Regions from separate parts of the Homo sapiens genome. Here region 1 is linked to region 2. Evidence: fine-mapped expression QTL. A gene starts in region 2. The other region holds a variant in brackets. All regions are shown on one strand. Distances are between the middles of the regions.

Region 1 (4,000 bases), 220 kb before region 2:
TTTTCATTTCTAAAAATTCCAATTTTTTTCATGCTTTCTAATTCTTTGTTAAAATTCTTAATGTTGTATTTCATCTCTTTGAAGAATTTAGGTAAAAGTCATTTTTATTTTTATTTGCAACAGGGTCTCGCTCTGTTGAAAGAGGGAGTGCAGTAATGCGATCATGGCTCACTGCAACCTTGAACTCCTCGGGCTTTAGAAATTAAAGAAAATAAAATAGAAAACAAAAAAAAATAGAAATTAAAAATTTTAATTTCTTTTTTGTAGAGACGAGATCTCACTATGTTGAGCAGGCTGGTTGCAGACTCCTGGCCTCAAGCTATCCTCCTACCTTGGCTAAAAGTTACTTTTAAATGTGTCTGATCAATTATCTGAATCCTCTGTAGGTCAGAACTTTTTATTTTTTATTTTTATTTTTTTGAGACAGAGTCTCGCTCTGTAGCTTAGGCTGGACTGCATTGGCACAATCTTGGCTCACTGCAACCTCCACCTCCTGGGTTCAAGCAATTCTCCTCCCTCAGCCTCCTTAGTAGCTGGGATTACAGGAGTCCACCACCACACCAGGCTAATTTTTTCTATTTTTGGTAGAGACGGGGTTTCACCATGTTGGCCAGGCTGGTCTCGAACTCCTGACTTCAGGGGATCCACCCGCCTCAGCCTCCCAAAGTGCTGGGATTACAGGCGTGAGCCACCTCGTGCCCAGCTTAAATTTCCAGTTTTCAACAAAGAATTATGATGCTTGCCAAGAAATAGAAAAGTAGGACACGTATGCATGGGGAAAAAAAGTCAACAGAGACTGTCCTTGAGGAAGCCCAGACGTGGTCCTATAGACAGTCTTTATATCAACTATTTTTATTTATTTATTTATTTATTTATTTATTTATTTATTTATTTATTTTGAGACAGAGTCTCACTCTGTTGCCCAGGCTGGAGTGCAGTGGCATGATCTCGGCTCACTGCAACCTCCGCCTCCCAGGTTCAAGCAGTTCTCCTGCTTCAGCCTCCTGAGTAGCTGGGATTACAGGTGCCCGCCACTACGCCCAGCTAATGTGTGTATTTTTAGTAGAGATGGGGTTTCTCCATGTTGGTCAGGCTGGTCTCGAACCCCTGACCTCGTGATCCACCCGCCTCGGCCTCCCAAAGTACTGGGATTATAGGCGTGAGCCACCACGCCCGGCTATATCAACTATTTTAAATATTGTTCAAAGAACTAAAGGAAACCATGTCTTAAGACCTTAACGAAAGTATGAGAATGTGTCTCACCAAATAAAGACTATCAATAAAGGCACAGAAATTACAAGAAAGAACCAAATAGAAATTCAGGAGTGAGAAACTATGGTAACTGCAATGAAAAATTTACTAGAGGTGCTTAACAGCAGATTTGAGCAAGCAGAAGAAATAATTAGGAAACCAGAAACGATGTCAGTTGAGATTATATCCAGTATAAGAAAAAGAAATAAGAAAGAAAAATGAAGACAGCCTCTGAAACCTGGGAGATACCAACAAACACACCATCATATAAATATTTGCTGTCTCAAAAGGAGAAGAACAAGAGGAAGGGGCAAAAAGAATATCTGAGTAAATAATTAACACAAAAATTTCCCAAATTTGAGGAAAAACATTAACGGACACATCCCCAAAGCCTAAGGGACACCAAGCAGGATAAACTCAAAGCTGACCTGCAACATCAGCTATCCCCTGGGTCTCCAGCCTATTGGTTCATCCTGCAGATTTTGAACTTGCCAGCCTCCATAACTGTGTAAGCCTATTTGTTAAAATAAATCTATACACATGCTCACACCCTATCAGTCCAGTTTCTCTGGGGAATGCTAATACAGAATTAGCACCAAGAAAGTGGGAGAGAATAGAACTATACAGGAACAAAGTTTCTATATACTATTGCTACAGTCTGAATGTGTGTCCCTGCCAAATCTCATGTTGACATGTAATTCCCAATACTGGAGGTGGGGCATGGTGGGAGGTGTTTCGATTATAGGAGCAGATCCCTCAGGAATGGCTTGGGCCATCCCCTGGTGATAAGTGAGCTCTTGCTTTGAGTTTACACAAAGATTTGGTCACTTAAAATGTGTACCGCCTCTTCTTCTCTCTCACTTTCTCTCTCTCTCATTTACTCCTGCTTTCACCATGTGAAGTGCCTGCTTCTGCTTCACCTTCCACCATGACTGTAAGCTTCCTGAGGCCTCCCTAGCAGCTGAGTGGATGCCAGCATTATGCTTCGTGTAAAGCCTGCAGAACCATGAGCCAATTAAACCTCTTTTCTTTATAAATTATCCAGTCTCAGGTATCTTGTTACAGCAATGCAAGAATGGCCTGACACAACTATTAAAATTAATTTGGTATTAATCTGAACAAGACTGTTAAAAGTTAATATGCAGAAAAATCATCTGATAAAATCCAACACACTTTCATTATAAAAATACTCAGCAAATTAGGAGCAGAAACTTTCTT[A/TA]ACATGATAAAGGAAATTTATGAAAAACTCAGAGCTAACATCATATACAATGGTGAAAAACTGAAACCTTTGCCTCTACTATCAGGAAAAAGACAAAGATGCCTGATTTTAGCACTGCTATTCAATACCATAATAGAAATCCTAGCCATAACAATTAAGGAAGAAAAGGAAATAAACTAAGCAAATTAAGAAAGAAAAGGAAATAAAAAGAATTCAAACTGAAAAGAAAGAAGACTCCATTCCCATAAGCAAATGACATTATTCTGTATCTAGAAAATCCCAAAGAATTAAAAAAAAAAAAAAAAAAACGACTAGAGCTCATAACCACATTCAGAAAAGTTACAGGGTACATGATCAACACATAAAAACAGTTGTGTTTCTATATGCCAGCAATGAACAACCCAAAAATGAAATTAAAACTATTCCATTTACAATAGCATCCAAAAGAATAAAATAGCTAGGAATAAACTTCAACCAAACAGGTAAAGACTTATACATGGAAACTACAAAACACTGCTGAAAGAAATTTAAAAAGATCTAAATAAATAGAAAGACATCCTGTGTCCATATGCTGGAAGACAGTATTGTTAAGATGACAATACTCTTCAAAGTAATCTAGATATTCAATACAATCCCTATGAAAGTTTCAATGGCCTTTTTTTGCAGAAACAAAAAAACCTTCTCTCAAATTCATATACAATTCCAAGGGGGCACTGAATAGCAAAAACAATACTGAAAAAGAAAAATAAAGTTGGAAGACTCACACTCTCCAATTTCAAAACTTATTACAAAGCAACAATAATCAAAACAGTGTGTTACTGGCATAAAATGAGATGCACAGACCAATGGAATAGAATTAGCAGTCCAGAAATAAACCCAAACATCCATGACAATTGATTTTCAAGTAGGGTGCCAAGATTTCTCAATGGGGAATTCTCTCAACGAATGGTGCTATGACAAGTAGATATCCAGATGCGAAAGAATAAAACTGGACCCTTACCTCACTTTGTATAACTCAAATCAGTGACTTATATGTAAGAGTTAAAAAGTATAACATTGTTAGAAAAAAAAAACAGGGGACAAGCTTTTATGACCTTGGATTTGGCAATGAATTCTTAGATTGAGCACCAAAACCATAAGGAACAAAAGATACAATAGATAAATTGCATGTTATCAAAATTTAAAATTTTCGTGCAGCAGAGACCATTATCAAGCAAGTGAAAATCTAAAGAATGGGGGGAGATATTTGTAAATCATACATCAGATAAGAGTATAGTTTCCAGAATATTTTAAAAACTCCTACGACTCAACAACAAAACGACAAATAGCCCAATTTAAATGGGCAAAGGATTTGAATGACACAAACGAGCAACAAGCACATGAAGGATGTTCAACATCACTGGTCATTAAGAAACGCAAGTCAAAACCACAATGAGATACTTCACAACAGTGATGATTCAAGCCGGGCATGGTGATTCATGCCTGTAATCCCAGCACTTTGGGAGGCCAAGGTAGGCGGATCACCTGAGGT
Region 2 (4,524 bases):
CTGCTGTTCTCTCCCAAGGCCTTGGGAACTCCTGCCTCTTTGTTGTCTCAGCACTCCCTTCACAGTTTACAAGAGGCTTTGGGGGAGGGCTTTACCCCCCGGGATAATGGGAGGCGTGGAGCCACGGTTTGCTGCGGTCTTTGCTCTCTGGGCAGTGAGGCCTTCTGTTGTTTACCTTAGGCTGCCTCTGAAGCTCCCAGATCCCTGCCTAGACATGATCTCACTCTCTCAAATCATCCCTGCGAGGCAGACAGGAGTCTGGGTCCAACTTCCCCCACTTCACAGGTGGGAAAACTGAGGGATTCACACATGTGTGTGCCGCAAGACACACACACACACACACACACACACACACACACACACACACACAGAGCAAATATGTTGACAAGTTGCTCTGCAGTCCTGGGGTCCTGTGCCTGCAGTTATTTGGAAGGTGAGAGGTCCATGATAGGGCCTGGCCCAGCGGCGTTCAGCAAGTGCCTCAAAATTCATGGGCCTTCTAGTGATATCCCACAGCCTAACACAGGGCCCTGCCTCCAGGGAGCCTGTGGTCAGTATCAGCAGGTGAGAGGAGCCTAAAGAGATGCATCCTGCGTTGCTGAAGTTCCTGAGTCCAGTTCTAAGGCAGCTCTACAGGCACATTTCGCCAGGCATGGTGGCTCATGCCTGCAACCACAGCACTTTGGAAGGCCAAGGTGGGAGGATCACTGAGGCCAGGAGTTCAAGACCAGCCTGGGCAATACAGCAAGACCCTCGTTTCTACAAAGAATTAAAAATTAAAAATTTAGCCAGGCGTGGTGGTGCACACCTGCAGTCCCAGCTACTCAGGAGTCTGAGGCAGGAGGATGACTCGAATCCAAGAGATCAAGTCTGCAGTAGGAGCTGTGATCACGCCACTGCACCTCCAATCTGAGCAACACAGTGAAACCCTGACTCTAGGGGATAACAAAAGTCACATTTCATGAGGGCAGGCCTTGCGTGTGGTAGCAAGAGCTATGGTGGAGAGGGACCACCCCTGAGGGTTGGTGGGCTGCCTGGGGACGGTGCCCAGTGCTGGACAATCCACACAGCTCCTCTCCAATTGTTGTGGCTTCCCAACACCCCTGTAAAAGAAGAATTGCTATGATCCTGCTCTACAAATAAGAAAATTGAGGCCCACAGCTCACCCAGGAGCACAGAGCAAGCCAGTCAGCAGTGGCTGGCCATCTGGCTGCAGGTCCTGAGCTTTGTCCACACCACCAAGCCACAGTCTCCCTAGCAGGGAGGCGCACAAAACTATCAGAGGCAGAGGAAAGGGGTGGCCTCTGCCAGGTGAGGAGCCAGACGGCCTGCTTCGCAGATCCCTTCCAGCTGGCTTTGCCTTCCAGTGCTGAGGTGGGGTGAAGGAGGAAAGGCCGAGCTGGGAGAGGAGCAGGCGCTCGCCACAACCACCCCCACCCTGCTCTCCACGCGCCAGGTCCTGCACGCTGGGTGGGAGGGTGACGACAAGGATGGAGGAGCAGGGCCCCACCCCCGCCCTCCCAGGGCGCACCATCTGCAGCAGAGAGGGCCTTGAGCTGCGTGGGAAATGCGGTAGGCAGAGGGACACTGATGAGGGTGGGCCGGCTGACGGCAGCCTTCTCTCAGCCCCGGACCCCTCCCGCCATCCCCAGCCCTGCCCCCTCCCTCCTTCCAGCGCCTGTCACTCTTCCTGCCCAAACCAAGCATTTAGCACTTAGCCTCGAACCCTCAGCTGACTCCTCATCTAGGACTCCGTCCATCTCTCCAACTATTGCAGAATCTCCTTCAAGGCAGGGGTTTATGTCCCCCACCCCACGGGCCATGTGACATTTATAACTCTTTGGTGGAATGAGAAGAAAGGTATTTGGGATATGATCAACTCCGGCAATGCCATTGTGTGTTTACGGCAACAGCGGGACAGTGGTTCCAGGGGGCGGCCCCGGGCCTCCGTGACGTCACCGGATTGTCGCGTCACCGTCGCCTACCCCGGCGGCGCAACGCGCCCTGCAGGAAAGATGACGTCACCGTCGGAGCTCCTGCAGACCAGTGCGCGCTCGGGGAGTTGGCGAGCGGGTGGCGGCTGGGAGACGTCCCGAGCGCACGGGACTGACAGGCGGCAGAAGCCGGGCGGGGTCCGCTGGGCTCCGGACCCGTGCCCCCCCAGTTCCAGGGCGGCCCCGGGCGGCCCCGCCCCCTCGGTGAATGCCGCGGGCCGGCCAATCCGGGCAGGCCGCGGCGCCGCGCAGCCTATCAGCGGCCAGAGCTCGCGTGCGCTTCCGCGTTCGCGTGCGCTTCCGCGTTCTCGTGAGCTCCCGGCCCGCTGCCGCAGGGACTGGGAGCGGGCTCCGCAGCGCACTCTAGCCCGCGGCTCGGCTCAGTCGGTCTGCGAGGATCCGGCCCGCCGCCCCCCGGGGGACCCGATGGCCTCGGAGGGCCTGGCGGGGGCGCTGGCTTCCGTGCTGGCTGGCCAGGGGTCCAGCGTGCACAGCTGCGACTCGGCGCCGGCCGGGGAGCCGCCGGCGCCCGTGCGGCTGCGGAAGAACGTGTGCTACGTGGTGCTGGCCGTGTTCCTCAGCGAGCAGGTGAGCGGCCGCCCCCGGGCCCGCCGGGCCTCGGGAGCGCGCAGCCAGCCCAGGTGGGGACAGAAGACCCAACGGCCACAGCCAGCGCTGCCGCGTGCGTGGCGCTTCCCAGTTTTGCAAAGCACTCCCACTCCCACTCGCATCTGTGTCCTGCGTTCGTCCCGATATGCAGAAGAGGAAACTGAGGCCCGGGGCCTGTTTGTCTCATCCGACTAGGCCTCATTCCTTCCCTTCCCCAGAGTCTAGCGGAGTGCCCAGGGCCCCTCAGATAGCAGTGGCTCAATCCCGGCTTACCTTCAGGCCTTTGGTGCTGATGCCTGTAGTGGGCGATGTAATGACAACTAGACGGGGCCAGGGCCATAGGGCGGGGTTGTACAGAGCGGAGGTGGGGGTCGTGTTTCAAGCCAGACCCCAGTGTGAGGACCCATCACAGTTTGTAAACCACGCCGTTGGAGGCGAGAGATACACAGTGGCAGGTACAGACGCAAATCAATCCAAGACAGACAGACACATGGTGACCCTCACTCTGGGGCCTCATCTCCAGCCCCTGAAGCGGCTTCCAGGAATCTCAGCCCTTCCTGAAATGGAAGTCTTCCTAAATCCAGAGAGAGACGAATTGCAGAGAGGAGAGGGCTGCAGCCCCCAGCGACACGAGGGCAGGTCTCCTGGAGCGCTAGCTGGGTTGAGAGTGTCCACCCAGAGGGGAGTCTTGGGCGACTGTGTTTGAGATGCCCCCTGGTCCCGGGGCGAGGGAAGGCTGTGGCAGGAAGTGAGGATCCTCTCTCCTCTCAGGATGAGGTGCTACTGATCCAGGAGGCCAAGAGGGAGTGCCGGGGGTCGTGGTACCTGCCTGCGGGGAGAATGGAGCCAGGGGAGACCATCGTGGAGGCGCTGCAGCGGGAGGTGAAGGAGGAGGCGGGGCTGCACTGTGAGCCCGAGACACTGCTGTCCGTGGAGGAGCGGGGCCCCTCCTGGGTCCGCTTCGTGTTCCTCGCTCGCCCCACAGGTATGGCCCACCTGGAGGCAGTGTGAACAGGGCCAGTTGACACCTTTCCCCCAGCTCCTCGGTGAGGTGAGCCCCTCTACAGCCAGTCCTGTTATGGCTGGCACAGCCTGGCATGGGCAGATTCCAGCCTTTGGGCTGGGGGCCTCTCTCCTGGGTCAGGGATGTCTGTTGACTCTGCCAGAGCTGCACTTCTCTCCACACAGACCCTCCCTGCCCCATCCCCCACATCTCCCCCAGGTGGAATTCTCAAGACTTCCAAGGAGGCCGATGCGGAGTCCCTGCAGGCTGCCTGGTACCCACGGACCTCCCTGCCCACTCCGCTGCGAGCCCATGACATCCTGCACCTGGTTGAACTAGCCGCCCAGTATCGCCAGCAAGCCAGGCACCCTCTCATTCTGCCCCAAGAGCTACCCTGTGATCTGGTCTGCCAGCGGCTCGTGGCTACCTTTACCAGCGCCCAGACAGTGTGGGTGTTAGTGGGCACAGTGGGGATGCCTCACTTGCCTGTCACTGCCTGTGGCCTCGACCCTATGGAGCAGAGGGGTGGCATGAAGATGGCCGTCCTGCGGCTGCTGCAGGAGTGTCTGACCCTGCACCACTTGGTGGTGGAGATCAAGGGGTTGCTTGGACTGCAGCACCTGGGCCGAGATCACAGTGATGGCATCTGTTTGAATGTGCTGGTGACCGTGGCTTTTCGGAGCCCAGGGATCCAGGATGAACCCCCAAAAGTTCGGGGTGAGAACTTCTCTTGGTGGAAGGTGATGGAGGAAGACCTGCAAAGCCAGCTCCTCCAGCGGCTTCAGGGATCCTCTGTTGTCCCAGTGAACAGATAGAGAGGTGGGGGAGGTGACAGGGAGCTAGGCAGCCGTGCTCCCTCCAGTGCGGACTTGTCTCCCTCTGAGGGAGGCAAGAGGCTGGCGATCAGGGATCTTGTTG

What was found. PIP is the estimated chance that this variant, and not a neighbour inherited with it, causes the effect.
Region 1: its variant is the best candidate, but not a certain one, in a credible set for the expression of NUDT18 in pancreas (GTEx, PIP 0.71).

Annotation. Positions count from the first base shown.
Region 1 is chr8:22,327,596-22,331,595 of GRCh38, reverse strand. The region is part of intron 20 of PIWIL2 (piwi like RNA-mediated gene silencing 2); the gene reads right to left. Among named protein-coding and RNA genes, the nearest start is that of SLC39A14, 38 kb to the left of the region's middle. The variant A/TA (reference allele first, on the strand shown) is at 2,470.
Region 2 is chr8:22,107,197-22,111,720 of GRCh38, reverse strand. NUDT18 (nudix hydrolase 18) reads left to right here and starts at 2,302. Exons shown (of 3, transcript NM_024815.4): 1 at 2,302-2,582; 2 at 3,375-3,588; 3 at 3,826-4,524. The coding sequence starts at 2,421. The coding sequence ends at 4,421. RefSeq lists a silencer at 1,949-2,728, enhancers at 3,188-3,961, 4,358-4,502 and a cis regulatory region at 4,430.